Regions from separate parts of the Homo sapiens genome. Here region 1 is linked to region 2. The links come from fine-mapping of genetic effects on gene expression. A gene starts in region 2. The other region holds a variant in brackets. All regions are shown on one strand. Distances are between the middles of the regions.

Region 1 (15,420 bases), 58 kb before region 2:
AGACATGAAGTCAGGGGACAGACTTTGTTGGGACAGGAGATGTTAAAGCATATTGTAAAGATATTAAAGCATAAAGTATTTTTGTCATAATCTTTTGAATGTGAGCTACTTCTGTGAATTAACTGAAAATGTTTTCATAACTACATCCTTGTTTTTTCAGTTAGTTTTTACTTCTAACTAAAATGATATCATAAATGCTAAGCTTCAGCACAGAGGTAGAGTCTTATTTACCATTTTGTTCTCAACAGTGTAAGCACAGTATAGTCAATTAATGTTTCTCAATAAATGAGTTAAAGATAAACAGAAAAAATGTAGAGCTTGGCTATAAAGTTATCCTTCAGATTCATCCATTAGGACCAAGTCTCTGTTTTGGGGTGTTTGTGTGTGTGTGTGTGTGTGTGTTTGTGTGTGTGGGGGTGGGGGGCGGTATTCTTCATTATCAGATGTCTGAGGCTAGGCTGGAAATTGCATAGTGGTTTTATATTGAAAAGTTAGTGTGTATGAGCAATAAAGGTAAATTATTCCTCCAAAGGAGAGAGATTGAATTTGAAGACAAGAAAAAGAAAATTCAGATTAAGAAAATAAATGTTAAAATCACAGCAATATACATTTGCAATAAAATACCCCAAAATCACATTGTTTTAGAAACACTTTACTGTTCTTTGCTAAGTCAAAAGGGGGAGTTCATTTTTTGTCTATTATGAAGGTGTAGTAGCACACAAGTAGCCATGTAAGTATCTGAAAGCTTGAATTTTGGATATATTTATGACTAAAAGTTCAACTAGATTTAAGTTACCATCAGTTTACTAGGCTGCTGTATCTCATTAGATACCATTTAGGACAGTAACACTTTAATAATAATCACCAAAGCCAATTTTTAAATAATCAATTGGTAAAAAATGTACGAGTGGAATAACCGTTGAGATGATCTCCTGCTTTTAATCAAGGTTGAATTTAAATCATTCTAGACTAAATTAATATATATAAATCATTCTAGACTATATTAATATATAGTATCTATATATACACATACACACACATCCTATTAAATCTTTTTCTGTGGAGAACCCTGACTAATACATAGGGCTGGAATACTTTCTTCATAAAAGGCTAAACAGTAAATATTTTAGGCTTTGCAGTCCATACTTTCCCTGTCTCAGCTACCTAACTCTGTCATTGTAGCACATAAGTAGCCATGTAAGTGAATGGATGCATACATGTTTCAATAAAACTTTATTTATAGAAACAGGCATCTAGCTGTGTTTGGACCAAGGGTTCTAGGATTAAATGATTGCTTGGTAGTTCAGTCAAAAGAGATAAGGGAGGTATACATTTGAAAGGATGTTTCATTCAAGCCAGGTTGGATTAAGGAGCAGTTTGTCATCCTTTTCTATATTATGGGTTATTACTTTGACAGTCTCACTCTTTAACTTCAATTTTACCTGTTTTATTTTTACACAAGGATTTCTTAAAAAACAATTAATGTTATAACAAAAAACTGTCACTCTTATCAGTCTTACCAATTCTAAACTGAGGACTGATTAGTTCAGCCTTTTTATATGTTGTCCTACTCTGTTTCTTTCTCTCTTTTTTTTGAGACAGGGTCACGCTCTGTTGCCCAGGCTTGAATGCAGTAGCAGGATCACAGCTCACTGCAGCCTCGACCTCCTGTGCTCAAGTGATCTTCCCACCTCAGCCTCCCGAGTAGCTGGAACCATGGGTGGGCACCACTATGCCTGGCTAATTTTTAAATTTTTTTGTAGAGATGATGTTTCACTGTGTTGCCCGGGCCAATCTCAAACTCCTGGCCTCAAAACTATGCTCTCACCTTGGCCTCCCAAAGTGCTGGGATTAGAGGTTTGAGCCACTGTGCCTGGTTGTCCTGTCTTTCTTACGGGAATGATCAGTGGCGGTGGAGGGGGTGAGCGTAAAGCGCAGCCAGATAATACAACTGGTGACCCAATCTACAAGCTTTGTAGCATCGATGATGGTTCTAGATTTTAAGATGAAGTTCTTTTTTTGTTTTCTTTATTTCTTCTTCTTTTTGTTTTAAGAAACAGGGTCTCACTCTATCGCACAGGCTGGAGTACAGTGATGTGATCATAGCTTAGTGCAGCCTTGAACTACTGGGCTCAATCAGTTCTCCTGCCCCCAGTCTCCCAAGTAGCTGGGACCACAGGCAGTGCCACCACACCCAGCTAAAAAAAAAAGTTTATTTGTAGAGACACAGTCTCAATGTGTTGTCCAGGCTGATCTCCAACTCTTGGCCTTAAGTGATCCTCCCACTTTGGCCTCCCGAAGTGCTGGCATTTCATGCGTGGGCCGCCCAGCCCAAAATGTGATTCCTGAAGGCCATAATTTTACTTTTGGCAAACAGGAACATTCTTGGTAACTATAGTAGTAATTTACCTTTTTCACTTTCTCTCTTCCTATATACCGTCAGGGCCAAGAAAGTGCTGCAGTTCCCACAATTAATCACAGAGGAACTTGAAGTTCTGGAGGTATATTGGAAGATTAGAAATTGCTAAAGCAAAATATTATCATTGTAGGGCATGGACCAAAAAGAAATTAGGCTAATCCAAGATAAAATGAGGCAAATAAGTGTTTGAAATTAAAATTAAAATTGTGATTCACAGTGTTCCTATTGTGTGTATTTAGATGGTATGAATGGTGCCATCCACCAGATGTAGGATTGGTAAATATTTTAGTGTAATAATAGCAATGCTTTTAATTCCCAGGAATAAACTGCACCTAACTTCTTTGGGGTGATTATAAGATTTAGGTCTTTATTTTTTTTTAAAGTAATTGTTTTTATTCATTAAGTTAAACAGTGCCTATCCAAAATAGATTCTTTCACATTTAAGTTCTCAAAAGGACTAACTGGCACATCAAGATCGAAGTTTTAACATCTCATCATTACTCTGTGTTAAGAATGAAGACCACTTTTTTGGTTTAAACAAGTTTCTGAAATGACACATCCGTTTAAAAAGGCAATTGACTTATAAGATAATTCAGATTTACATTATTTTTCACCTTTTATTTTCACTCGCCAAGTCTATTTTTGTTCAACATTTTGCATTTATTTCTTTCAGGAGCCTGTACAAATATTACTTTTCTCTTTGTAATTTGTCTTCCTTGTTTAGCCCCCTTTCCTATACGTTATACATTACAGTTAATATTATCAAGATGAAAGATGATATATTATAATTGTACATTCATGGGGCTTACTCTACACAAGGCACTGTGTTAAGTACATTGTTTTATTGTCCCTTTGAATTCTCGCTACAGCCCTAATGCTACTGCTGCAGCAATCACCCTCATTTTGTAGTGGAATAAGTGGGATAGCTTATGTAAGCCAGCAAGTGGCAGAGGCAGGATTGGACCTTGCCTTCTTTATCCCCAGCCATTGCTCTTTGGTGCTATTATGCTTAGTAATAATCTCTTTTCCATTTTGACAAATTCAACTATAAAAAAGTACAATACTAAGGAAGAACCAAAACCAAGCTGGGGGTGGAGGGAACCCTGTGAACTTATAGACCCTGTCTGTCTTCAAAGTTGCTTGAAGCCCAGTTGAAGCCAGTATCTCCCTCAGCTTTTTCCTTTTTAAAGGAACAGGAACCATTTTGTCTTCTCCCTCTCTCCTCTCTTTAGAGAAGTGTTTTCTTCACCTCACAGAAGAGATTACTTTCGCTTTTTTCAACTATCAGTTGAGTGCTATGGTGTGCTAAGCTAACATGGTAATAGAAATAACTTTTCTCTTGAGTTTTTCATGCCCACAAAAGAAAAATGAATACTTCTCATATGTCCGCTTTGATATACCAGTTTTATGTGATTCAAATTAGTTGTCATGGTCTGTTTGTCTAAGTCAGTCTCTTACTCAGTAAACATTAATGGGGCAGATGCTCTATGCCAGTTCTTGTGCTTTAATGAGGAATTAATTTTAATATGATCCAGCAGAGCTGGAAGTTGTAACGTTTTTGTTACAGGCAGGAAATGTTTAAATTGAAAATAAAAGAATTTCTAAGGTAGAATTAATGTGCTATTCGTCGTGACTTTGAGAATAAAGCTCATTTGCTTTAGTAAAAACTGAGTAAACCTCAGTTTTCTGTTGACAAAAATTGAAATAACTATTAATTTATCTCAATAACTGGTTTAAAGGAAATGAGATAAAGAAGGCTATACAACACTTGAAATTTCTCTATGGTAAAAATTGAAGAATAGGTATCAGCATCATTGTTAAATCAAACAAATTGAAATTCTGTCTGTGAAGTAAGAAAATTAAATAATCCTGGATTAAAACTCAAAATCCACATTAAAACCAATAGTTATTTTTAGAAGACCTGTCCCAATTATGTTCAGTATTGCTATTTAGTTTTTGTATTGTTATAAATAATCAAATTATATTTGATTACCATCTATATTGTTTCAAAAATGAGTCTCTATTTTTCATATGTTATCTTTATATACATAAATATTAGAAAAGTGTTTGAGGCTAAATTTGAGCAATCTTTTCTTGAACAGTTACTTTTGAACAAAAATATTTGCATTTGACAATAACTTTGTATTTTATGTGTTTTTACTCTGTGAGAAAGGAAACTTTGAACTTGACAACTCTGCCATTAAACTGAAAATTACAAGGTAAATCACTGATTTACTAATTAAGTAACCATGGTTGAAAGAACATTCATTTCCTGAGTATCACAAAGCAAAACCTTGCATAGTCCATATATCTGTTAATGAAATAAGTTAATTTGCAAACTTTGATAATGTTACTTAATCAGTGGCAAGTGATAAAAATGTTGCTAGTACTTATTAAATCATTTAAAATAGCTATATGCAGTTTTATTTGCAATATATATATAACAGATATGAGATTTCTGTCCAGAATATATAAAAGGCTCTCAGTAACTAAGTAGGCCAATAGGAAAATAATCATTCACATAGAAGAGAAAGGAAATCCCAATCATAGTGTTTTAAAAATAATGCCAAACTGCACTAATAATAAGGGAAATGAATGCTAAAATAATGATTTTTATTTAGGCCTATGATGTCGACAAAAATTAAACAGAGTTACGTTTACAGGAAATTGAACCGGCTCATAATCTTGGCGAAAGTGTAATTGGATACAGCCTTTTGAACTGATCCCTTTCATTCTACAAATGTTACACAATTATTTACTATAAAGATGAATTTATGTGTAAGTTGTGTACTTTTAAAAAAATAGAACATCTGTGGATTTTGAATTACATTTAGGGAAAAGCAAACTGTGAATGGCAATAATAATAATAATAATAATAGCTTTAAAAACAAAGTCTTTGAATGCATATCAGGCTTATAGAGTAGTGGTCCAGGTCAAAAAGATTAGCAACTCGTACCAACTACACCTTTTTTTTTGTTGTTGTTTTTGAGACAGAGTCTCACTCTGTTGCCCAGGCTGGAGCGCAGTGGCGTGATGTTGGCTCACTGCAACCTCTGCCTCCCGGGTTCAAGCGATTCTCCTGCCTCAGCCTCCAAGTAGCTGGGATTACAGGCGCGTGTCACCACACCTGATTAATTTTCTGTATTTTTAGTAGAGACGGGGTTTTGCCATGTTGGCCAGGCTGGTCTTGAACTCTTGACCTCAGGTGATCCACCCACCTTGGCCTCCCAAAATGTTGGGATTACAGGTGTGAGCCACCGTGCCCAGCCCCTAACTATACCTTTTTCAAAAATGTCACTTTGTCTTAGTTTTCAGTTCTCTCCACTCGAGTCAGTGGAGTAGCAAACACATTTGTATGCAAGCACCAGCACCTCTGGAATGGTCAGTAAGGGTCATTCATATATAAATGCACAAATGGAGTCAAATTGCTTTTCCTTTCCTTAGATTGGCTCCACTGAAGGATTGGAAATTTTGATCCAGAAAAGAGTTGTCAATTTTGGAGCACTTTTGAAGACAGGGTGTAGTCAGTGTCTAGAAAGAAATGCATACCTGTGGCGGTAGGTTCAGATATTAAAAAACAGGCTTGCCTCAAGCCTCTCCTGTGCCCTCAGATGAGCTGCTTCAGGGATTCTATGAGAAAGCAAACTCTGACTAGCCTCTGACTTACAAGCGGACTTGGAGAACAGGCCATTTGTAAATCGAAGGTCATCCAGGCCTGCCTGTCTCATTCTGGAGATCAGAAATGTTAAAAGGAGTGGAGAACCTAGGAAGCATTTACAGATGCCACATCTACGTTAGTAAGAGATCTGGAAACCATATATTAGTTGGTGTAAACTAGAACATTTAAGGGGGACACTATAACATCAAATATGTGAAGATCTGTCATTTAGATCTTCTGTTTGTTGCTATGGTTTGGAAGCCTCAGTATCACAGGTAAAAGTCACAAAGCAGCCAATTTCAACACCCTGGAAGGATGAATTTTCTTATTCTTAGGGCAATCCAACAGTGGAACGGGCTGCCCTCCAAGAAACTACGGGCTTCTGCTAGCTCTAGAAATGCCTGAACTTATATTTGGTAGCTCTCTTGGGCAGGAGATTGGTTGGACTGAGCAATCTTAAAAATTTCTCACACTACCCTCTGGTTCCAGGCTTCAGAAGGCAGCGCATTTCATTCCAGCACCAAGGCCTGAGGTCCCGTGCCCTTTTGAAAAGCTGAATAAGGACAAAAATATACAAAGTCAGACTTGCTACAGCTGAGATAGGGCAAAACTTCCAAAGACTCTAGTACAAAGAGAGAGACCAAATGGGAAAACAAATAGACAATACAAAAGGCGTACATATGTCTTGATTACTAAATACAACTTCTTGCCGCAGCTTGCTTTAGTGCTTGTGGCCCCTGTCCT[C/T]ATCTATAATACCTGCTAGCTTGGAATATTTACAACAGCCGCTGAGGAGTGGCAGTTTCCCAGCACTGCCTGGCCTTTCGTTGTGCAACAGGGAGCAAGTAAAGTCACTGTGCATAAGCATTTGTACTTTTAGAAATTAGGGGGAAAAAAAGTGTGTGCTGTGGACACATTTTATTCTTTGTGGAAAGCTCACCAGGTGGTTGCCAGTTTATCAAGAGCAATAAATGCCTGCGGAAATGTAATGACCTGGAGAGCATTGCTTTTATCTGAACTCTATAGTTGGAAGGAAAACCAGTCAACCAAATGATACAGAAATAAGACCCGCAAGGGGCACACTTGACAAGTTTTGTTCCGCAGGACAGGAGCCAGGGCTGAAGTGCGCAATGGAGGCATGGCTGACTGCAGCCTCCAGCCGTTTCCTGCACCCTCTCCACACTGTGCTCACCTCTCCTCCAAATAAAGTTGAATAAATATTTAGAGAATGTTGGTTTGAAGGGAAGCCACATTATTAAGCTACTTAAATGCCTTATGTCTGTGTCAAGCCCCGTTTGCCATAAGCTTCATGTAACCTATTACCTTTTTTTCTCTTTACAGTGTCCATGGAAAACACTGGCGAACAAGGTAAGCTAGATTATATTAATGTTATAGATTTTTTAAATAGTTTGAAAAAAAATTGTATTCACTTAGATTTGGTTGGGATTAATAAATTGTTGTTTGAGAATGTGGAGACAAGCTAGGGTTAAAGATGTCTCATTTCTCTTAAGTTTGCAGATTGAATTCTGTCAGACCCTTGGCAAAGAATTCTATCCTGAAATGGCTGTCATTGTGCCAGAGATTCTTAAGGCTTTGAGGTATAGGGATATCAACAATTTCCTTTCCTAATTCAGATTATGAACTTATAACTGAGTCACCTACATAATTTATGAAAAATATTGTTGGCTTTAGTCATCTCACACCGATTTAAGTGCCTTATTGAATAATTCAAATTTTTAATGATTCTATGAGTATCCTCATTCTTTAGAAAAATTTAAAATTGCTATTAAAGTTTTAAAATGCCAAATATGCTATATTTAAATTAGCATATTTTATTCAATGATATCTTACAGAATTAAATTGTGTATTAATGTATTACCCAGAAGGAAGCATTATCACCATATAGAAAATTAATATTTAAAATTTGGGCCGGGCACAGTGGCTCATGCCTGTAATCTCAGCACCTTGGGAGGCCAAAGCGGGCAGATCATTTGAGGTCAGAAGTTCAAGACCAGCCTGGCCAGCATGGTGAAACCCTGTCTCTACTTAAAAAAAAAAAGAAAAATACTAACATTAGCCAGGTGAGGTGGGGCATGCCTGTAATCCCAGCCACTCAGGAGGCTGAGGTAGGAGGATTGCTTGAGCCCCAGGGGGCGGAGGTGGCAGTGAGCCACTGCACTCCAGCCTGGGCGACAGAGTGAGACCCTGTCTCAAAAAAAAGGAAAGAAAAGAAAAGAAAATTTTGGATAGTATTTCAAGACTTTATAACACCACCCAGAGTGTGTTTATATGCATTACTGAAAAAAGTATTCAGAACACTTTTTTAAAACAATTGTCCCATGTAATAAATAAGACACTTGAACTCCCACTGAAGGAAATCTCTTTGTCCAGATGTTCTCCATTTAAATGTGTTATCATTACACCAGCTTTGACTAGAGCCAAGCAAATAAGCAAACAGCTTCTCAAATAGGAACTGCCTTTGTTATCTGTGTCAGTAAAGCAAAGTTCTTAAAGCCTGAGTGTTTTAACACTTGTTTTTAATGCTGTGTTTGCTGTTTAAATTTGGAGGCGTAACTGCCTCATTTTTACAATTTAGAAAAGGTCCTTGTTAGTGATTTTGCCAATAGATGGTCTGTCTACAGATGGGAGGCTTTTATTCATGGGCATAGATCTCATTATGCATTTAGGAATTTTTGTAAAAAACTCTTGGCTTTGGAAATAAATTCGTTGAGTTGTGTTTATTCTAGTATAAAGTAAAGGAACTTTCATAATGTATTATAATTGGTAATTTGGTTATTTTAAAACAAGCAGATCGGTTGTGACTGTCATAATTTTAGTATGTATTTGCATATTATAATGATAATTATGTTTTTCTCATTTTAGTTGTGTGCCTGATGGCCTATCATCTACTTTTTGCAATGTTTGTCTGGTCATACTGGAAAACTATCTTTACATTACCAATGAATCCTTCAAAAGAAGTAAGTTAAAATATTAACGAAATTATTCTAATAATAGAAATCAATAATACTGATGTATTATTGAAGAACGAATTTTATTTTAATGTTGCAAACTTATTGAGTTTAGTGACTTTTTAGATTAAAAAAATTAGTATTTCTGTTAATAAATACTTGAATTTTCACCTGGAAATATTAGTGTTTTCACCAGATAAGCACTGCATTTTCTGTATTGAATCTGTTATGAATTCCATTTCCACTTTAGAGTCAGACATCAGGATGGATGGATAGGTAGACAAAGATAGATAATAAAATAGAGCTAGAAGGTAGACATAATTCTATGATAATTATCACATTAAAGGTGTATTAGTTGGTTATCAGCCACCAGAAACAACAACAACAAAATAATGGCTTAGCTAATCTTCTCTGCATTCAAAAAGTCTGTAGCTAGTCCACAGCTTCCAGGTGCCCACACTCCTTCTATCTTGTTTCTCTGCCACGTGTAGCCTCCATTTCCAAGGTCCCCTCTTGGTCTAAGGGGGACTCTGCGGTTCCAACCATCACATCTACATTGTAGCCAGCAGACCAAAGAAAGTAGGAAAGAGAAGTAAATGTCCTCCTCTTCAAGAACACTTTCTAGACATTGCTGACGTCATTTCCACTTACATTTAGAAGTTGGTTATATGGCCACATCTACCCACAAGGAAGGGGGGAGTGTAGCCTTTCTTCTCGATGACCATGTTAAACATGAGAGAAGAAGAGAAATATGGTTACTGAGAGACAACTAGCAATCTCTGCTTCAGAGGGCTTTAAGTAGAGTGATGGATCAAATTTGCATGTTGAAAAGATCATTCTGTTTGTTTCTGGATCATGCATCCTGGTTAAACGTTCTTGGAGCAAAGAATTGTGTCTCACTCATTTTTGTATCCTTGGCGTATAGCCCAGTACATTGTTGAATAAAAATATACTTTGCTAACTCTAATAACAGTGTAGTTTTAGTAAGCCAAGTTTAAAAAAAAAAAGCATCACTGTAGACTGTTTACTGAAGTAATCAGTTTGAAATGCAACTTTGGTCAAAAAAGCCAATAAATATGCTATTTGGCTTGGGAGAGGATGGTAAAAACCACAGATGTTTGCGCAGAATTAATGGTATGCCTGGCTTAGAATGCCTATCTATTGCCTGTTTTTCTTCTATTCTCCACTTCTTTTTCTATCCCAGTCTTTTTTTTTCCTTCCTCCTACCATATTTGCTTCTTTTCCATCATCTCTCTTACCCTCATCCTGTCCCTAGTAGTAGGTTTGAAGAAAAATACTGACTTCTATCATAGGTAGTCTCATCCACTCTGGTAGTTTACATACAACCTCTGTTTTGATAACTCCCAAATCTGTTTTGAGTTCTAAACTCCCCCTTAAATTTCAAACTTATGTATCCCCCTGCCAAGCATAGCTTCTTGATAATTCCACCAACATCTCAAATACAAAACATCAAAAACAGACGTCATCACCTTCTCCTTCCCCAGACTGTGAGTCATCTGTTTCTTATGTCAGTTAATGGGCAGTTTATCACTGCTCTAATTCTGGGTCTTCATCATCTCCCTTGTCTGAGATATTGTATTCTTCTCCTGGTAATTTGGTTATTTTAAAACAAGCAGATCATTTGTGAATACCATAATTTTAGTCTGTACTTGCATATTATAATGATAATTATGTTTCTCTCATTTTAGTTGTGTGCCTAATGGCCTATCATCTACTTTTTGCAATGTTTGTCTGGTCATACTGGAAAACCATCTTAAGGTTTTCTGTTTACAGCCTGGCCTACCTTTCCTTCCCAGAACCCCACAAAACTTCATCCAATACCCTGAAGCTGGAGTGGTCCTCCTAAAAACCAATGTAACGCCTTCCCTCTACTGCTTGTATCTATTGTGATTCCATATATCCCACAGGGGAAAGCTCAGTCTCTTCTGCCTAGCAATAGCAGCTCTTGTCTCAATTTCTGACTTTATACTTTATACTCTAGTAGTTCTTAACTACACATAGTTTCCTGTATACAACATGGCATTATTTCCTTTCCAAAATATTCTTACCCCTTTCTCATGGAAATAATATATTTATTTTCCATTCATACTGGCAGCTCCTTCTTGGCCTCCTTTGCTGGTTCCTCTTCAGCTCCTAGACTGCCAAAGCATTGGAATGTTCCAGAGCTTAATCCCTGGACTTCTCTTCTTATATACCTGCATTTATTCCCTCGTGGATTTCATTGAGTTCTGTGACTTTATGTGTCACCCCAGTGCCGCAGCTCTCAGATTAATATATTAGCCTGGTGCTTGCTAATAAACGCCTGACACATTTCCAGCTCCCTATTTGACATCTAATAGAAATTTCAGGTTCAACACAACTGAAAACAAACTTCTGATTTCTCATTTAATTCCCCAGTTCTTCTAGTCCTAAAGTTTTCTTATGTCAGTAATGACAGTTTCACTCTTCTGTTCAGGCCAGAAACATTGGTGTCATCCTTGGCTACTCTTTTTCTCTCGGACGCCACATCTAGTCAATCAGAAAATTCTATACCCTCACCCTCAGAGTATGGCCACAATGTGAACTCATGTGCCGCACTGCTCCCTGCTCCCACCCCGGTCCAAGCCACCATCCTCTCTCATTTATAGATTTGCAGTAGCCTCTTAACAGGTTTCTTTTTGTTGGGTTTTTTTTTTTGGTGTTTTGTTATGTTTTTTTTTTTTTTTTTTTGGCCTCCTCTTGTGTATTTTCAACACAGTAGCCAAAGTGATCCTTTCAAAAGACAAGGCAAATCTCTCACCTTTTTGATGTCTTTATACAAATGGTACCTTATCATTGAGGCTGTCTGTGATGACTCAACATAGAATAGCAACCCCACTACCCTCGGCTTTCCCTGCACCTTACCTTCCTGGATTTTTCTCCATAACATTTACCATCATGGCAACACACTGCATATTTATTTGTTGAATACTTTTGAAAATACACCATCGTTAGAATGTAGGTTCCATAAGGGCGTGAAATGTATCTTTGTTCACTGCTTCATCACCAGTGCCTAAAGCAGTGTCTGACCTATAGAAGGTACTCAAGAGATACTTTTTAAGTGACTAAAAGTAGGGAAGAAGTTATTCATACACATGCAGGTTTATTTTTATGGCCTTGGCAGGAAGTTGAAGTGACTTCTAACTTCTCTCTAAAATTATATATGACATCATTGGCTAACAGTGAAGACCTAAGTGGGTTAATTAAGGGTTGGGAGAGTAGAGAAGGTTTGAAATAGTGGATTGGACAGAGTGGCAAAAGGATATGAAACACACGGAAGAAAGAACACAGCATTGAAGGAGCAGTCAAATCGATGACAGTGACATTATAACGGTATCAGGCTTCATTGTGTGATTTTTCTACAAAAGACGTACCTTAGTCATACAACTGTTTGAGATAGATACTATTTTTTACTATTTTACAGATGGAGCCACTGGCTTTGAACATGAAACAATTAAGGTATCTAGTGCTACTGTGTGGGAGAGCTAAGGTTCAACCAAAAGTCCTTTCAACCCTTAAGGACACTTTCTTTTCACTACACCATGCTCTAGTATGGAGAGCAAGCACAATGGGTGGGAGTGCCCAGGACTTCAATTGAAGCATGGGGGAAAAATAGCAAAAATTTTTTTACGTATTATTCATTTAATATTTTTATTTTTTAAAGTTTTGTATATGAGGTACATAAGCTATTAGCTGATAAAATATATACCAATACACTTGAACCTGGGAGGCGGAGGTTGCAGTGAGCCGAGATCGCACCACTGCACTCCAGCCTGGGCGACAGATCGACACTCCGTCTCAAAAAAAAAAAAGAAAAGAAAAGAATATATACCAATAAATACTCATCTGTTAGCAGTGTGATCTCACGTAATTTTTTACGGTTAGGGGAACATGATCAAAAGAGTTTGGAGACCACTGTTAGGAAGAAAGAGCCCTTGTCTGGTGGTTAAGAACCTTAGAATATTCCCTTTATAAAACGCAAGGTCTTGGGCTATTCTTTTAATTGATCAGCTGTTAGAGACCTCTCGCTTGTAAAATGAGGATCCTGAACTGAAAACATGTGAATTAAAATTTGCCCTTTTCATAGCAAGATTGTTAAAGTGATAATAGTTTTTCATTGGTAAGATTTTCTCAATATAAAAGTAATACAACCGCACTAAATTATATTTTGAAAATGAAGACTAGGCAAAAAGAAAAAAGAGAAAAATCCGTTACACCAATTCAAGCACTTTACATTCTGAATTTCTTTGTAGTTAAAAAAAACTTGTGAGTACCTAATAGATATATATATTTATGGGGTACCTGAGGTATTTTGATACAGGCATGCAATGTGTAATAATCACATCAGCGTAAATTGGGTATCAGTTACCACAAGCATTTGTATTTTGTGTTACAAAAAATCCTATTATACTCTTAGTTATTTTAAAATGTACAATTAAATTATTATTGATTGTAGCCGCCCTATTGTGCTGTCAAATACTAGGTCTTATTCATTCTTTTTTTTTTTTTTTTTTTTTTTTTTTTGAGATGGAGTTTCGCTCTGTCACCCAGGCTGGAGTGCAATGGCATAATCTTGGCTCACTGCAACCTCTGCCTTCTGGTTTCAAGGGATTCTCCTGCCTCAGCCTCCCAAGTAGCTGGGATTACAAGTGCCTGCCACCACGCCCGGCTATTTTTTGTGGTTTTAGTAGAGATGAAGTTTCACCATGTTGGCCAGGCTGGTCTCAAACTCCTGACCTCGTGATCCGCCCACCTCAGCCTCCCAAACTGCTGGGATTACAGGCATGAGCCATGGCACCTGGCCCAAATTTTTGTATTTTTAATAGAGATGGGGTTTCGCCATGTTGGCCAGGCTGGTATCAAACTCCTGACCTCAAGTGATCCACTCGCCTTGGCCTCCCAAAGTGCTGGGATTACAGGCATAAGCCACTGCGCCCAGCCTTATTCATTCTTTCTAACTTTTTTGGTTTTGTTACCGTTAACTTTCCCCACTTATGTCCAAGTTTCCTACTACCCTTCCCAGCCTCTGGTTGCCATCCTTTTATTCTCTATCTCTATGAGTTTAGTTGTTTTAATTTTTAGCTCCCACAAGTAAGTGAGAGCATGCAAAGTTTGTCTTTCTCTGCCTTGCTTATTTTACTTAACATAATGACCTCGAGTTCCATTCATGTTGTTGCAAATGATGGGATCTCATTCTTTGTTTTGTGGCTGAATATATTCCATTGTGTAAGTAAACACCACATTTTCATTATCCATTCATCCATTGATGGACACTGAGTTTCCTTTCAAATCTTGGCTATTGTGAGTAGTGCTGCAATAAACATGGGAGTGCAGATTATCTCTTTAACATACTTGTTTCCTTTCTTTTGGGTATATACTCACAGTAGAATTGCTGGGTCATATGGTAGCTCTATTTTTAGTTTTTTGAGAAACCCATCGTAGTAGTACTAATTTACATTCTCACCAACAGTATACAAGGGTTCCCTTTTCTCCACCATCTCACCAGCATTTGTTATTGCCTTTATTTTACTTTATTGGTATTTTTTGAGGTAAGGTCTTGCTCTGTTGGCCAGGCTGGTGTGCAGTGCTGCAATCACAGCTCACTGCAGCTTTGACTTCCTGGGTTCGAGCAATAGTCCCACCTCAGCCCCCTAAGTAGCTGTGACTACAGGCATGCATCACCACGCCTATCTAATTTTTTTTAATTTTTTGTAGAGATGAGATTTCACTATGTTGCCTAGGCTGGCCTCAGACTCCTGGGCTCGAATGGTCCTCCCGCTTTGGCCTCCCAAAGTGCTGGGATTATAAGCATGAGCCACTGCACCTGCCCTTTGCCTATCTTTAGGATAAAAGCTATTTGAACTGGGGTACGATGATAACTCATTGTAGTTTTGATTTGCATTTCTCTGATGACCATGGATGTTGAGCACATCTTCATATACCTGTTTGCCCTTTGTGTGTCGTCTTTTGAGAAATGTCTATTCAGATCTTTTGCTCATTTTTAAATTGGATTATTAGATTTTTTTCCTATAGAGTTGTTCGAGCTCCTTATACATTCTGGATATTAATCCTTTATCAAATGGGGAGTTGCCAAATACTTTCTCCCATTCTGTGGGTTGTGTCTTCTCTTGGTTGATTGTTTCCTTTGCTGTGCAAAAGCCTTTTAACTTGATGTGATCCCATTTGTCCACTTTTGCTTTGGTTGCCTGTGCTTGTGAGGTATGATTCAAGAAATCCTTGCCTACACCAATGCTTTGGAGAGTTTCCCCAACGTTTTCTTTTACTGGTTTCATAATTTGAGGTCTTAGATTTAAGTCTTTAATCCATTTTGATTTTTG
Region 2 (14,465 bases):
AGTAAAAGGGAAGGGCAATACTTTCCAGTTCTTTTGCACCTTCATATCTAGGGAAGAAAAATGACTAAAAAAAAGGTATTTGTATCAAGAGTCTTAAGTTATGTTTCCTAAGGTACAAGTTCAAGTGCAGAAGAGACAAAAAAGATGATAGGTAAGAATGAGTGTGTTCAGTACCTACAACTCAACCATTTCTGGTTAGTACACATCAAAGTTGCCCACATGAACAGTCCTTCACTATAAACATCCCACAGATCAGAGACAGAAACTAAACATGCAGGAGACTCAGATTTAAGATACATGTGTGAAGTGGACCAAGTATGAGAGTATTAACATCTATGTAACACAATGCTTTTTCAAAACCTAACAAAAGCCAATATCATTCTGAAGGTTACTTTTAGTCCCTGGAACGTCAGTTTAGTTTACTTAGATGGGAAAACTCTTTTTCATACCTGGAAGTCTATTTCACAAAATCGGAATAGTTTCCTTACCAGAAACACTCTTAAATAATCTAGTTTCATAACAATAAAGAATTTAGAACCACCACTTATTGAGAATTTACTGTTTATAAAGTATTTTGGTGACCATTAAAACAAGTCTTCAAGCTATTTCTTCTAAGGGATGCCTTATCACTTTAAAAAAAAATTAAAATCCATCTCCACACCCATCCCTAGCATTTTCTTTGCTGTTTTGAGATAGTACTTATCACTATCTAACAAATCACAACGTGAACTCCATTTTTAAAAACTGTCTGCCCACCCCCATGAGAATATAAACTCCATGAGGAAAATAATTTTCATCTGTTTTATTCACACCTTAGTTCCTAGAATCTCATCTCAGTGCCTGCCATATGGTAAATACTCAATAACGTTGTGTAAATGTAAGTGAATGGTTTCCCCCGTAGAACATTAAAAACTAAGGTGTAGAAATAGTAAAAGAAAACCCTGGGTAACACCAATTCCAAATGGCGCCGCTGGATTTAAACCAGGGTCTTTCACTTTTTAGAGAACCTGTACTGTTTCCACTATGCAACATGCTTCTCACAGGCAAAAATGGATCCCATATTTTAAATTAACCTTTAAGCAGACCAACATTAGCCTCCTAAGAGTTAGGAGACAACTCTATATGGCAGTCAACTCTTTCCAGAATTAAACCTGAAATTGCTAACATAGTGACCCAAGTAAGTGTGGAGCAAGTATGAGATGGAAAAACAAATGCCATTTTCAATGTAGTCGTTTTACCTATGAAATGACAACCATTTGACCCCTTCACAGAGGACCACTCCAGAAGTCATAAGAAGTTCTGCAAAGTACTGGGTTTCAATTCCTTCCTCCTCATGTTTTTTAAACTGGATACCAGATGTTGTTAGTAGCTCTATAGAGTCCTGGGCATACATGTCCTCCCTGGCAGAAGAAAGAGAAAGACAACATTCAAACATGCCATTACTTCAAACAAGCTGTTCTTCTGCTTACATCTATAACTACAGTGCCAGAAAAGAGACAGAGGAATGGCTTGAGTCCACCTGTTTCAATGCTTTATATATATGCAAGAAAAATGCAATTTAAATACAAAGGTCATTATTTCAGAAAAGTGTTTCGAATAAAAAATCATTCAGAGAGTCCAAAGGTGCAATTTTAATCTTTTTTCTATTAACTCTATTAGCCTTTCATACTTAAATACATTTAACTGGGTTTGGAAAAGGGTCTCCTATTCACCAGGGGCTACCGTCGCAAAGTGACAGACAAGTTTTTTCAGAGACTCTCAGTCTCAGCAGCCACTGTAATGCTCCCAGATGGAGCTGCAGCCATAGCTGTGGGGCATATGCCCATCTCCCGTGCTCTCAGCAGCACCAGTAAGGAGACCCAGTGGAAAATGTCTCATGCGGATGAGTTAAACTACACTTCATCTTAAAGAAGGAGATGCCTCCTTTCACAAATGAGCCTTGCAAATGCCTCCAATAAGCAACACTGTATAAAGGACTGTACTGTAATAGCAATAATTTCTTCTGCCAACAATCCTATTCCTAAAAGACTGCCTTATAAAATCAAGCCAGGAAATCTAAATATAAACCAATTCTTCAAGATTTCACTTAAGCCAAAAAGAAAGCCATCTCCAACCTCAAATATATTTCCAACCACAAATATGTGTATCTGAAATATTAAAAGTTTCCAAAATATATCTGTATCTGAAATATTAAAACAAAAAAGTTACCAAAATACAGATACATTTTTGAGAATACGTGAAAAAGTGTTTTTTTATTTACTTTTTAAATTGTAAGAATACTGGTTTCTACCTCTTGGCAAAAGGAATTCCTATTAAACACTTGACAAATCTAAACCATGGGGTTCACTTCACTTGGGCCAAAAAGTATCGTTATGGTTAGTCCTTTAGAAATCAATTTATTTCTAAATGTCTGAAAAATTACAAAACAATGGAAATATTTTAAAAGAGAAGGAAACCACAACAATCACGTAAAAGTCAGTCTCCCCTGGAAAATCCTTTAGGAAGGGTAACAGAATAAACCCAATGAAGTAGTTTCTTTTTTTTTTTTTTTTTCCAGTGAAACCACAGCTTTCCTATGCTAAAAATATGTACCTCAAAAAATTAGAATCTCATTCATCAGGTCCCAGTGCTCACACTGAGGCATGCCTTAGCAACTATAAGCAATGAAAGGGATAAAAAACAGATTCTTCTCCAGGTGCACATCATTCTTGGCCATTTGCCAAGGTATAGGTATACAAGTAGTTTAGACCTTTTTCTCTTAAGTTTCCAATAACACCCTTCACCTGTCTACTTGCAGCATATGGCTTCACCCCATACCTGCTTTACAAAGAAACATCAGATTAATATTCCTGTCTTTCTTTACATCTACGTATGTGAAGATCTTTCTTACTTAGACTACAAAGACAGCTTGCCTCATCGCCAAAGCTAATTGCTACCAATGCCTTAGACGCTATTCCATGCCATTCCTCAAAGGACTTGTCAAGTGCCTATCTTTATCCTAACATACAACTCCTTAACTAACTCATGAACACACAAATATGTCTGTGTATTATCTGTAAAACAAAATAAAAACCACTATTCTGTTGATTCTGCTTTCCCTTCTTGAGACAGGGTCTGGCTGTCATCCAGGAAGCAGTGGCTTGAACACGGCTCACTGTAGCCTTGACCTCCCGGACTCAAGCAATCCTCCTTTTGTAGCCTCCCAAGTAGCTGGGACTACAGATATGAGCCACCATGCCTGGCTAATTTTTCTATTTTTGTAGACAGGGTTTTGCCATGTTGCCCGAACTGGTCTTAAACTGAGCTCAAACAATCTGCCCACCCTGGCTTCCAACTGGCCTCCCGAAGTGCTGGGATTACAGGAATGGGCTACTGCATCCAGCCTTCCTTCTTATGGCACTCTCTATCTCCTTCTTTACACTGCCACTTTCCTTAAATGAAGCATCAGCATCCTTTCTGTTACCACCAAACCCAAGGTGCCCTGTAATTTCTACTATCCTATTGAATTACTGCAATCACCAAAAGTGATTTTTCTTTTTTGAGACGGAGTCTCACTCTGTCGCCCAGACTGGAGTCAGTGGCATCTCGGCTCACTGCAAGCTCCACCTCCTGGGTTCACGCCATTCTCCCGCCTCAGCCTCCCGAGTAGCTGGGACTACAGGTGCTCACCACCACACCCAGCTAATTTTTTTTGTATTTTTAGTAGATACAGGGTTTCACCGTGTTAGCCAGGATGTTCTCGATCTCCTGACCTTGTGATCCGCCCGCCTCGGCCTCCCAAAGTGCTGGGATTACAGGCGTGAGCCACCACGCCCAGCCTAAAAGTGAGAATTTGTTAAAAATTTGTTTTAATCCTCTTTATCAGTGACATTATTTCCACAGAATGCTTCTCTTCTTCACAGCTCATCAGTACTCCACTTCAATTTTCATGGATGTATCAACTCCAAATTCAGTTTGGAGAGAATTCCCATACGTTACAATTGTAATTCTTAGACTTAGGCAATAGAGAGAAAACAGAAGAGTTACAAAACACTGAGTTATAAAGACCACGACCAACTTTCCTCAGTACTAAATCCCTAGTGTCTAGCACTGTAACTGACACTCATTCTAGCCACCCCATTAAAAAGTCAATTTTGATCTTTCTTCCAAATTTCCAAGATTCTCTTCACGGTGCTCTCTCTATATTAGGCATTACTCGTTTATCTTCCAAATGACTTCTTCTACCTAATGTTTTTCACTGTATCCTTCTCCTTAAACATCTCCTAACATCAGTGTAAATCAAGCTTGTCCAACCTGCAGCCAGTGGGCCACATGTGGCCCGGCATGGCTGTGAATGTAGCCCAATACAAATTTGTCAACTTTCTTAAAACATTTTGAGATTTTTTTTTTTTTTAGCTCAACAGCTATTGTTAGCATTAGTGTATTTTATGTGTGGCCCAAGACAATTCTTCCTCTAGTGTGGCCCAGGGAAACCAAAAGATTAGACACCCCTAGTGTAAATGGTAGCAAAACTTGGTAGTAAACTTTAGCAGTCATTTTTGAGTAAGAAAGAAAAAATGTCACTTACAGGCTGTACTAAGAAAGCAGTTGTTACTCGAACAAAGGTGTTTCTAGAAAAGGAAACTGTCAATTTTATCCAAACTGAGAAGCTGATGGGTTACCTCCTTCTCACGTACTGAGATCACAATAGTATCTAATTTAAAAACAATGTTCTAATTCACTTGAACAAAAAGTTAACATGGAACAAATGAAATGGTAAAGCACTAATTTTAATAAAGGTTTATCATTTGAGAAAAAGGATAGGAGGCAATTTTCAGTGTTTCACAGATGTAGTTCTTATAAAAGGTTTTCAGTTTGAGTGGAGTACTTTGCACCCTTTATAAATGAGGTGTTCAATCTTTTGGCTTCCTTGGGCCATACTCAAAGAACTGTCTTGGGCCACACATTAAATAAACTAACTTAAACAACAACAAAAAAATCTCATAATGTTTTAAGAAAGTTTACGAATTTCTGTTGGGCTGCATTCAAAGCCATCCTGGGCCAAGGGTTGGACAAGTTTACTTTACAAGGTTCTGTAGACTGTGCGTGTGTGTATAGATACAGGTATTTTTAGAGACAAAGTATCACTCTGTTGCCCAGGCTGGAGTGCAGTGGTGCAATCTAGATCACTATAGCCTTGAACACCTCAGTTAAAGCAATCCACTTGGTTCAGCCTCCCTGTACCTGTAGTGCTAGCTACCTGTACCTGTACCTGTAGTGCTAGGACTACAGGTACACAGCCACCATGCCTGGCTTAGTTTCATTTTTTTTTTTTTTTTTTGTAGAGACAGAGTCTATGTTGACCAGGCTGGTCTAGAACTCCTGGCCTCAAGCAATCCTCCTGCCTTGGTCTCCAAATGGAGAGTATATTATTAAACCCAAAAGAGTGAAATGGAGAGTCAGGCTAAACACAGTGTAATTACAAGCCACACTACTATACCACAGGCATCATTACTCTGCTTTTCCTAAGCCCTACTTTCGTAAAATTGTGTATACTAAATATCTTTGTTTATCTGACAAAGAACAGGAAGAAAGAATTCATACATTGGCACTACCATTAATTGCCTACAGTTTCTTTCACTATTTTACCTACCAGATATTAGGATGTATGACACAAATGTAGGATGTCAAACAGAAGAACAATGCAATATTGCAACATACAGTTAAGTACTCACTCAACGTTATCAATAAGTTCTTGGAAATTGCAACTTTAAGCCAAAAGATGGATAACGAAACCAATTTTTACCACAGGCTAATTGATAAAAACAAGAGTTAAGTTCCTACGGCATATTTCTGGTCACAAAAAAATCATCAAACTTCTAGATAAAGACCAAAATACTTCTAATATTAAACAATGAAATAAATGTGAGCTATATGTAAATTTAAGAACAATTAATAAAAACAAGATAATTATTTGCTCCATTATTCAGTTGAGGGGTGAAGAAAGCCAGAGCCTATTCTGGCAGCTCAGGGCACAATGTGGGAACCAACCCTGGTCAGCATGTCGTTCCGTGGCACAGTGCACTCACACAGATACACCTACTCACTCACACTGGGACAACTTAGCCACACCATTTCACCTAACGTGCACAGCCTTGGGATGTGGGAGGAAATCAGAGGACCCGGGAGAAAATCCACATATACACGAGAACGTGCACACTCCACTCAGGTAGTGGCCCGGGTCAGGAATCAATTTTATTTTTTATGAAGGTTACCATGAAACAATGTTGAAGAAAATGTCATTTGAGGTCCTGCTGTAATAAGAATGTATTATTTTATTTACCCAACTTAGTTTGCAAATAATCTGCCCCTCTCTAAAAACATCTAAAACTTCCCTTAGCTATCAAGACTACTTCTATTAATAATACAGAAATATTATAACTAAGGAAACTGGGTGAAGACCCAGGGCTTGAGTTAGAATGAAGATTCTGACATATGATAAACACCAGGTTCAAGGATACTACTACTTCTCCTATATGTAAATTAAGAGAGCTTTTGTGGGCTGAAGTGGCAACCTAATGATAATACTGACTTGAAAGGAAAACGTACCCAAGGTTCCAGAAAACGTCTTACTGCATTTGACATGTAATCTACTCATAAACTGGAATATGAATGCAACAAAAATCTTCACAAGAAGGATAAATATTATAAAAGGCTATATTTCAAATTGCACACAAAATTTTTGAAAGTAAAACTAATGTAGGATTATTTTTTCTATCAGAAGTACTTTCAATACCCAGTCTTCCAAATACAAAAAAAGCTGCAGTCATATTTTAAATATAACATCTTTAACATCAAAGTATTTTTTTTGGTCCCATAGTAAAAAAGAAAACCACGCTTTTGAAATGTTACGTTTTATATATTTCCAGGATAACTACACCAAATTCACCTAGCATGTCACCATACTTGAGGAAAATCAATTCCTAAGATTAAAGAAAAAAAAAAAAAAGTCTGGGTTATACAGTTATTTCCCACTTACGTCAAATTAAATTTAAAATTAAACTGCCAAGTTGAAGTTCCTGGAGGGTATTCTCCTTGCTCATTCATAAATGTCAGTCCTAGCTGAATTATCTTTAACAAGTCTACATTACACCGCAATAGTTGGTATTGATAGTCAGCATTGCTCCTGAATTCTCCAATGGGTCTTGCAACCACACCTGGAAACTCGGTGTCCTGTAAAATAGTTTTAAGATTCATTATGTACTAAACAGTCAAAACTACAATCCACACATTTTTAATTTTTGATGCAAATCAAAGAATCCTACAGATGATATTCTACACATTTATATTCAATTACAAAGTATATTTTAACTAGAAAGAACATCACTTTTTAGAACCATAAAACTCTATAAACTTAATAACCTTTCCTTAAATATATCCAAAAAGTTACTATACGAGATACATGTGATAAATTTAACCAAATACTTACTCTATAACCAAGAAAGGGGGGAAAATCATAAATTCCTGTCTCCCAAAGGATACATGAAATGATGCTCACAGTATTCCAATGCTAAAACCAAGTTTCTTGAAGAACTGGTTCAAAAGAGGGGAAAACGCCCTGTACTTTCCAATTGCTTCTCTGACACAAGGTTTTTCTCAACACCAAAACCCTAAGAAAAACATCATTAGCTTCCTAATTTCTCTGGCTTAAACAATATTCTCTCTATAGTCCACAGAAAGCATGCTGTCAAGAATTGCATGCCACCTACTCACTCTTGTAGGATGTTATCACTTCTCTATGTTGCCACTCTTTATCATCTGAGAAATCAATGATCACTATGAATTTCCATTGGTTAAGAAAACAATTTTAGTTCTAATCATGGGTAAGTACACCTTTATCAAATAGTATGTCATCTACAAAGAAACAGTCATATTTTAACCAATCAACTTGCTCCTCCCCAAAGTAATGCATTTGTTTATTTTTATTAAAAATACTGAGACAAAGATACATCGGTTTAGTATTAGAATTCAAACTAGGGCTAGCTAAGAATAAAAACTACCTATCAAGTCACTATGAAATAGTAAAGAAATCAATATTTCTCTAAATTCAGTGCAATTCAACAGCCACTTTATTGAATACTATATGTGTTATGCTAGGTGTTGGGAGAGAAAGGATTAAAACACTTGGTTTATGGAGCTAATAATAATCCAGTGGATGTAGAAAACAGTAGGGTAGCTAACAGATATAGACAGTATAATGGTAAAGAAGAAAAATCATTAACTGGATAGACAATCTAGGCAGACCAAACAGCACGTGCAAAAGCAGAGTTGCTTAGTAACACAGTATATTCACAGAACTCCAGTGTTAATTATGAAAACAAATTGCAGACCAACAACGTTTCACTGGCACATCTGATTTTTTTGTTTGAGAAAGAGCACCCTAGCTTCTGGGAGCTCATGTGGTACTACCAGCTAGGCTTTGGTGTTGCTAGGAGCAGACCTGGCACTCATAGCCACGCCCTAATGTTCTCCTGTTGAACACAATTTCACAAAAGTTCAACCTCAAATAAGGCCACTCTGTAATCATGTCTGAACAAGGACAAAAAAATAAAAATGTCAAACCACAAAATGACCAAGTATCTCCATCCTGGCTAAATGAATGACTGTTCCTTCTCTGCAGCTTTAACCTCATTCTAGTCTCTCATTTAAGACTTAGTAAGATACCCAATCACAGAATTACCCCAGCTTCCCGAACACATCCAATCCACAGTAAAGCTCTGCTTCCCTTACCTTCCCCTAAGACCACCTGACACGAGCCCAAATCCTTCCTAACTCTTATTCAAACGGCCCATGGTTCCCATGAATTCCAGTGCGTTTTCCCTCACTGCAATGAGGGATAAACCCAACCTGTCAAATCACAGGTGTATTCCTGATGGATTTTGGCTGGAGGGCAGTGACAAATTTTACTTTTCATGGTGAAATTAATCCCTAAAAATATCAACCAAAAGGGTTGAATTCAAGACTTTAAAATTTCCTTTTCCTCCTTTATATGAAGCGTTTTAAAGATCTGCTTGTGGGCATACCATAGCAACGTAATTATATTTTCGGATAACTTGACGAATTTTCTTCATCTCTTCATCCAAGTTGCAAGCCCAAACTTCACAAATTCTTTGGCTATGATCTACAGTTGCCGCTGGCATAGTGAGGGCACAAGGGAGTCTAGATGCCAAGCATCAAAATGTTATACTTGATTGAAGATTTGTTTCATAAAATATTTTATCCTTTATTTATGTACCTGTCAAAATAAAAAAACAATATGAAGACCAGATATATCAAATCTGAATCACAGAATAATTGATCCAGCAGGAACCTAAGAAGTTATTTATTCAAAGTTCTTGACTCATAAAAAAAAAAAATCAAAGTTTAGAAAGTAACTTAAGGTCACACAGCTAGTCTATAGGAAAAAAAGGACTACAGTACAGATTTCCTGGTCCTAATTTCAGTTATTTTAAAATAGCTTTTTTACACATACATACTAATCATATTTTATAACTTTCCACTAATTATTTATCTGAGTTCAACTACTCTGCATAAAACTTTATAAAGCCATCCATTTCCAGACAAAAAATGAAAAATTACTTATTTACATGTGACAAGATCAGATGTTACCATGGCAAAGATGGTGTTTATTTTTATTCCTCATTAATAAAACAACCAAAATCCGACTTGATAACAAGATCTACTTTACCGGCGTTTATTCTAACTAGACTAGAGGGGTCAAAAATGTTTGTAAATGCTCTGAGAAAAAAGTAACGGCCATGAAAATTATCTGAATGTTCGCAGTTGCAGAACGGAAAAAGAACACAATAGAACGTCTAAAACTTAGAGCATATTGCATGGTTACCAAAGATAGATGTCACATTTCTGGTCTATAAACAGAGTTCCTGTTGATTCTTGGGCAGGGAAATTTCAAATCCTTCTGCATTTTTCATACAAATTGGAAAAAAAAAAAACAAGAGTAAAAAGAGGGTCTTATGACTGTCTTCTAAACTCTGAAGAGTCACAAATGTAACTTCCAATTCTCCAAGTAGAGAAACTAAAGGAGATCCAGGACACCCCTCCTTTATAACTCTCCCACCCCGATAGGCACACACACACACATAAGCACAAAAACACAAAGACTTGGAAAGACCCTGTAGTCTAACATTGTTTTCCTCCACCTCTCTCTCTACTGCAGTCCCAGAAGCCCCGAAGAGACACCAAAGGCCTTCTCATTACTGGAGAAAGCATCTCCGTACTGCAGTTTCCCAGAGAAACGAGAGGACGGCACCGAGGTATTCAAGCCATAGATAACTCTCTTCCCTGGCAAAGCGCCAGTGCGAAGGTGCTGATAACACTGACTGGAGCTACACTGACTCCCAAGCACTGCCGCGTGAAACAATACGAAGAGGTGAGGATCTAGGCCACCGCCCTCCACTCCCAATTTCCGTCCCACTGCGAAGCCCCAGGTACAAAGCCTTTGCGTCATCACTACGCGCCAACCCCTTGACAAACCCCCAGCCCCAGTTACCCAGCCCCCAACCCGCCGCCAGGCTCCTTCCTCCGCCAGCCGCACTCCAGCTGGCGCCATCGCGCACCCTCTCAGGTTCATCGTCCCCGCCCCCTTTCTACTTCCCTAACCCGCCCCTCCCCCCGTAAGGCTGCAGCGGATGCAAGATCTACTTGTGTCGCTGAGCTCGCGCTCCTCCTCCTCCTCCTCGCCATAGAGACAGCACTCGGCGGCGGTGGCGGTGGCGGTGGCGGTAGCGGCGGCGGCAGCGGGTGCCCCATAGACACCTCTCGCCCAGCGAAGGGAAAGGCGAGCAGGAGCTGCGCCGCACCGTGCTGCGCCGTCGCTTTTCGCACGTCCTGACGGGGGCGCTAGATGATGACGCGACACGCAGAGGGGGCGGAGAGCGCCCCCGGGGGCGGGGCACGCAAGTGACGGCGGCGCGGGTGGTGGAGCGCTGGGCGGCCAGGCTCCCTGGCTGGCCGGTTTGGGCGTCTGGGCCGTGAAGGTGGGACCTCCTGTTCCGGGCCGCAAGTTTCCCTCTCCAGCCGCCCGCCGTTCGTAGCATGTCCCCCAGAACTCGGGGAGCGCAGGCAGGACAGGCTTAGAGAAGACGCGGTCCCCAGCGCTTGGGCCACGGACGTCCCACCCCGCTCCTCTGTCGCTGGAGAACCGCCGGGCCGAGCCACTGGGAGAAGCAGGCCAGAGCCTTCCAGGGCCTCCGGCCCGTGGACCCGAGGAGGATGAGCTGGCTTTTTCCCCTGACCAAGAGCGCCTCCTCCTCCGCGGCTGGGTCCCCCGGTGGCCTCACCAGCCTCCAGCAGCAGAAGCAGCGCCTGATCGAGTCCCTCCGGAACTCACACTCCAGGTGACTGGTCGCTGCCTCTCCACCGGAGGAAAAAGTAGGGTGGGAGGGCGGGCTTGTCCTAACCACCCTCACAGCGCCTCAGTCTGCTCCCCACCAGCTCCTCATGTGGTTTACCTCCCTTGGTTGTGGGTCACACGCTTGCTCTGCCACTCCTGCCCCCTTTTACTGTTTTCCTCCGGACCCTCCCTGCCTCCTGCCGCACCACTGCTCAGCGCTTCTAACTCGGATTTCCTCATCCCTCCTGACACATAGCTGCTGACTGTAATCTCTCAATCTCTCTCATAGTCTATTTCCAGTATCCCTTGCTGCCCAGGCTTCGCCACTGATCTTTCCCTTTGCCCACCTGATTGCCGCGTCAGCAGAATTGTTAAAATACAATTGTGAAGAGTAATCTCCAGGTTTCACAAAGAATGGAAAATAGAACTGTTGCAACATCAAAGGAAAGGGAAGCCAGAGTTTTCATCAGTGAATGCTTCTCGTCTGAGAGTCACTTATCACGTAGTCAGTCTTCTTGAGTCTCTAAGATTTACCCTGTTGGAGCAGTCTCTCCCCATCTCACAGCGACCAGTGCATGTACATTTCTCACTTCTTTCATAGTCTTGTCCCCACGCTCAAGAATTACTTTATGTTCATCTTGATTGTTCTGTTGTCTTCCTGTGAGTTTTTCATTTTATCATGGTCAGTTTAGAAATATTTTTACAATTCATATTATTTCAACTTTTACTGTAAATTGGTTTGCTGCAGCCTTTTACATTGCAAATGTCTATGGTCTCTAATGGTTTTCAAAAATTAGAACTGCTTCTTTATATTTTATGCATTTTGCAAGTATATTTACTTAACAGTTTCACACTATTTTAAATAAAGATGACAACATTGTTAAGTCCCTAACCCCTTTTTTTTTTTTTTTTTTTGCCGGGGGTACGGCTCTCCTGTTGCCCAGGCTGGAGCGCAGTGGCGCGATCTCGGTTCACTGCAACCTCCGTCTCCCGGATTCAAGCAATCATCCTCCCTCAGCTCCCCACACCCCTCCGAGTAGCTGGGATTACAGGTGCGCGCCACCATGCGCGGCTAATATTTTGTATTTTTAGTAGAGACGGGGTTTCACCACATTGGTCAGGCTGGTCTCGAACTCCTGACCTTAGATTATCCACCCGCTTCGGCCTCCCAAAGTGCTGGGATTACAGGAATAAGCCACCTCGCCGGGCTCCTAGCCCTTTTAAAAATATTATTTTCATACAGTTAAAAAATATGTATCCTCAGATAATATCGAATAATTCTTATTTAAAATGGAATAATTTTTAATTAAATAGTCTAGTTAATAGAAAAATTTACTGCAAAATCAGTTTGGCTAAAATAAGGCCTGATGCTGACTGAACTTTAGGTGTTTCTTGGTTCGTTGTCTCAATTGTTCTGTTTGTTCAGAACTTTCAAAAGGTGAAATTTTATGCTGTTTAACAGAAAAGAATGGCAGGCTGTTATTGGTGGCTTTCATTCTGGAAAATTAAGTTCGCAAAGTTCTTACAAGTCACTCTTACTCCAAATCATGTTCTGTACTGACCTTTAAGAGCTACTCTCACAAGGTATGCTTATAAAATAAGGGGACTCGTTTTTAACATGTTTGTTCCCTTAGAAGTTGTTACCTTGGTAGACTATATACCAAACCAGTCCTGCTATTGCAGAAACACTTTTTTAGAACCACACTTTTGGAATTAATTGCTTTTAAACCTTAGTATGTAGTATTATGTTAAATATTTTCAATGCTGACTAATTTTTTTCTTCGAGGTTGGAGTTTAATTTTTTAAATACTACAAAGTCTCTTGCTGCTAAGGCTGGTAAGTAAGGGAAGTAATTGATGTGAAATTTATAATTTTGGCCTCCCAAATAAAGTGAGATTCTATAGCAGCAATTGTTAATGTAAAGAGTTCTGGAATTGGCTTAAGAGGATCAGTAAATACGCGGAGTTGGATACAGAAAGGATTCATTTTATGTATTATTTTTTGAACCAGAAATTATGAACGTATGATTGGACATGATTACATTAGATAATGTAATTTATTTTGTAGTGTTATGAACAAATAACTAAGTATTTTATTGTTTTAAGTTCTTTTATAAAAACACTTGAAGTTTTATTGAGATGTTTCGCATTTACAAATTATACTCGAATAATTCCGGAGACACTTAAGTAGGTCATATGCTTCCAGTTTTCAAAGAATGGCACAATCCTGGAAAATGCCACTCACCTATTCTTGTTAGTCCACCCTTTTAAATAATGACATATATTTGTAAGCTGGGAGGTAAAAAATAATCTGTCTGTATGGTATCTGATGTAAAGATGGAAAAGGTGTGATATTTTTTCTCATCAGTCATAAGGGGCACAGCTGACCCTCCTGTAACAAAAGACAGGTTAACAAGCGAAAAGCATAACAGATTTATTTAATCAAAGTTTTACACTGCATGGGAGCCTTCAGAAATGAAGCCCCAGAGACCGAAGGAAAACTGTCTGTATTTATGATTAGGTTCAATGAAGAATGGACAGCCATGTAGAAATGTGATTGGACAAAAAGAGTATGGTAATGGTAATAGACAGAGGTAGGGGAAACCCACCAAGGCCTGTTTGTTCAGATTTTTCTTGGCTTCTCTGTATAACTTTCTACTCCTCTAGTGGACCGGCCCGGGCTCATATGGAGTGAGGGTCTTCAGGGCGGAAGGGAAAGTGACCTTTCTAGATTTTTTGTAGGGAAGAAGGGTTGTAGTTTGTAATATACCGCCCAGGGGAGGAGGAATTCTGGTTTCTATGACTTCTTCAATGGAGAAAGAGGGGCAGGAGGTGGTCAGAGAGAGCTTTACTTCTGAGGCCCTCCAGACTCCTTTAATTCAAAGTAATCAGCCTACCAAAGTGCAATATTTTGGGGTATTGTTTTCTGAGCCCCAATACTGGCAATATGTTGCCTGATTACCTAAATTAGTGGTACGACTTACACTTAAAAGATTTTTGTGCGAACAGACAGATTGGTTATTCTAAAGGTGTGGTGTGTAAAAGTTGAAAGAATTTCCAGTGTGTTTTTTCCT

Direction of the effects. Alleles are on the strand shown, and positions count from the first base shown. SD is a standard deviation of normalised expression in the study named.
With allele T in place of C in region 1, the expression in pancreas of the gene that starts at base 10,884 in region 2 is higher (moderate effect, 0.46 SD a copy in GTEx).

The links. PIP is the estimated chance that this variant, and not a neighbour inherited with it, causes the effect.
Region 1: its variant is fine-mapped to the expression of CNOT7 in pancreas (GTEx, PIP 0.94).

Annotation. Positions count from the first base shown.
Region 1 is chr8:17,177,374-17,192,793 of GRCh38, forward strand. It overlaps ZDHHC2 (zDHHC palmitoyltransferase 2), which reads left to right. Exons shown (of 13, transcript NM_016353.5): 2 at 7,416-7,442; 3 at 8,958-9,052. Among named protein-coding and RNA genes, the nearest start is that of ZDHHC2, 29 kb to the left of the region's middle. The variant C/T (reference allele first, on the strand shown) is at 6,822.
Region 2 is chr8:17,235,974-17,250,438 of GRCh38, forward strand. CNOT7 (CCR4-NOT transcription complex subunit 7) reads right to left here and starts at 10,884. Exons shown (of 7, transcript NM_013354.7): 1 at 10,702-10,884; 2 at 9,063-9,274; 3 at 7,019-7,212; 4 at 1,239-1,400. The coding sequence starts at 9,179. VPS37A (VPS37A subunit of ESCRT-I) reads left to right here and starts at 10,985. Exons shown (of 12, transcript NM_152415.3): 1 at 10,985-11,396. The coding sequence starts at 11,272. RefSeq lists an enhancer at 10,633-11,481.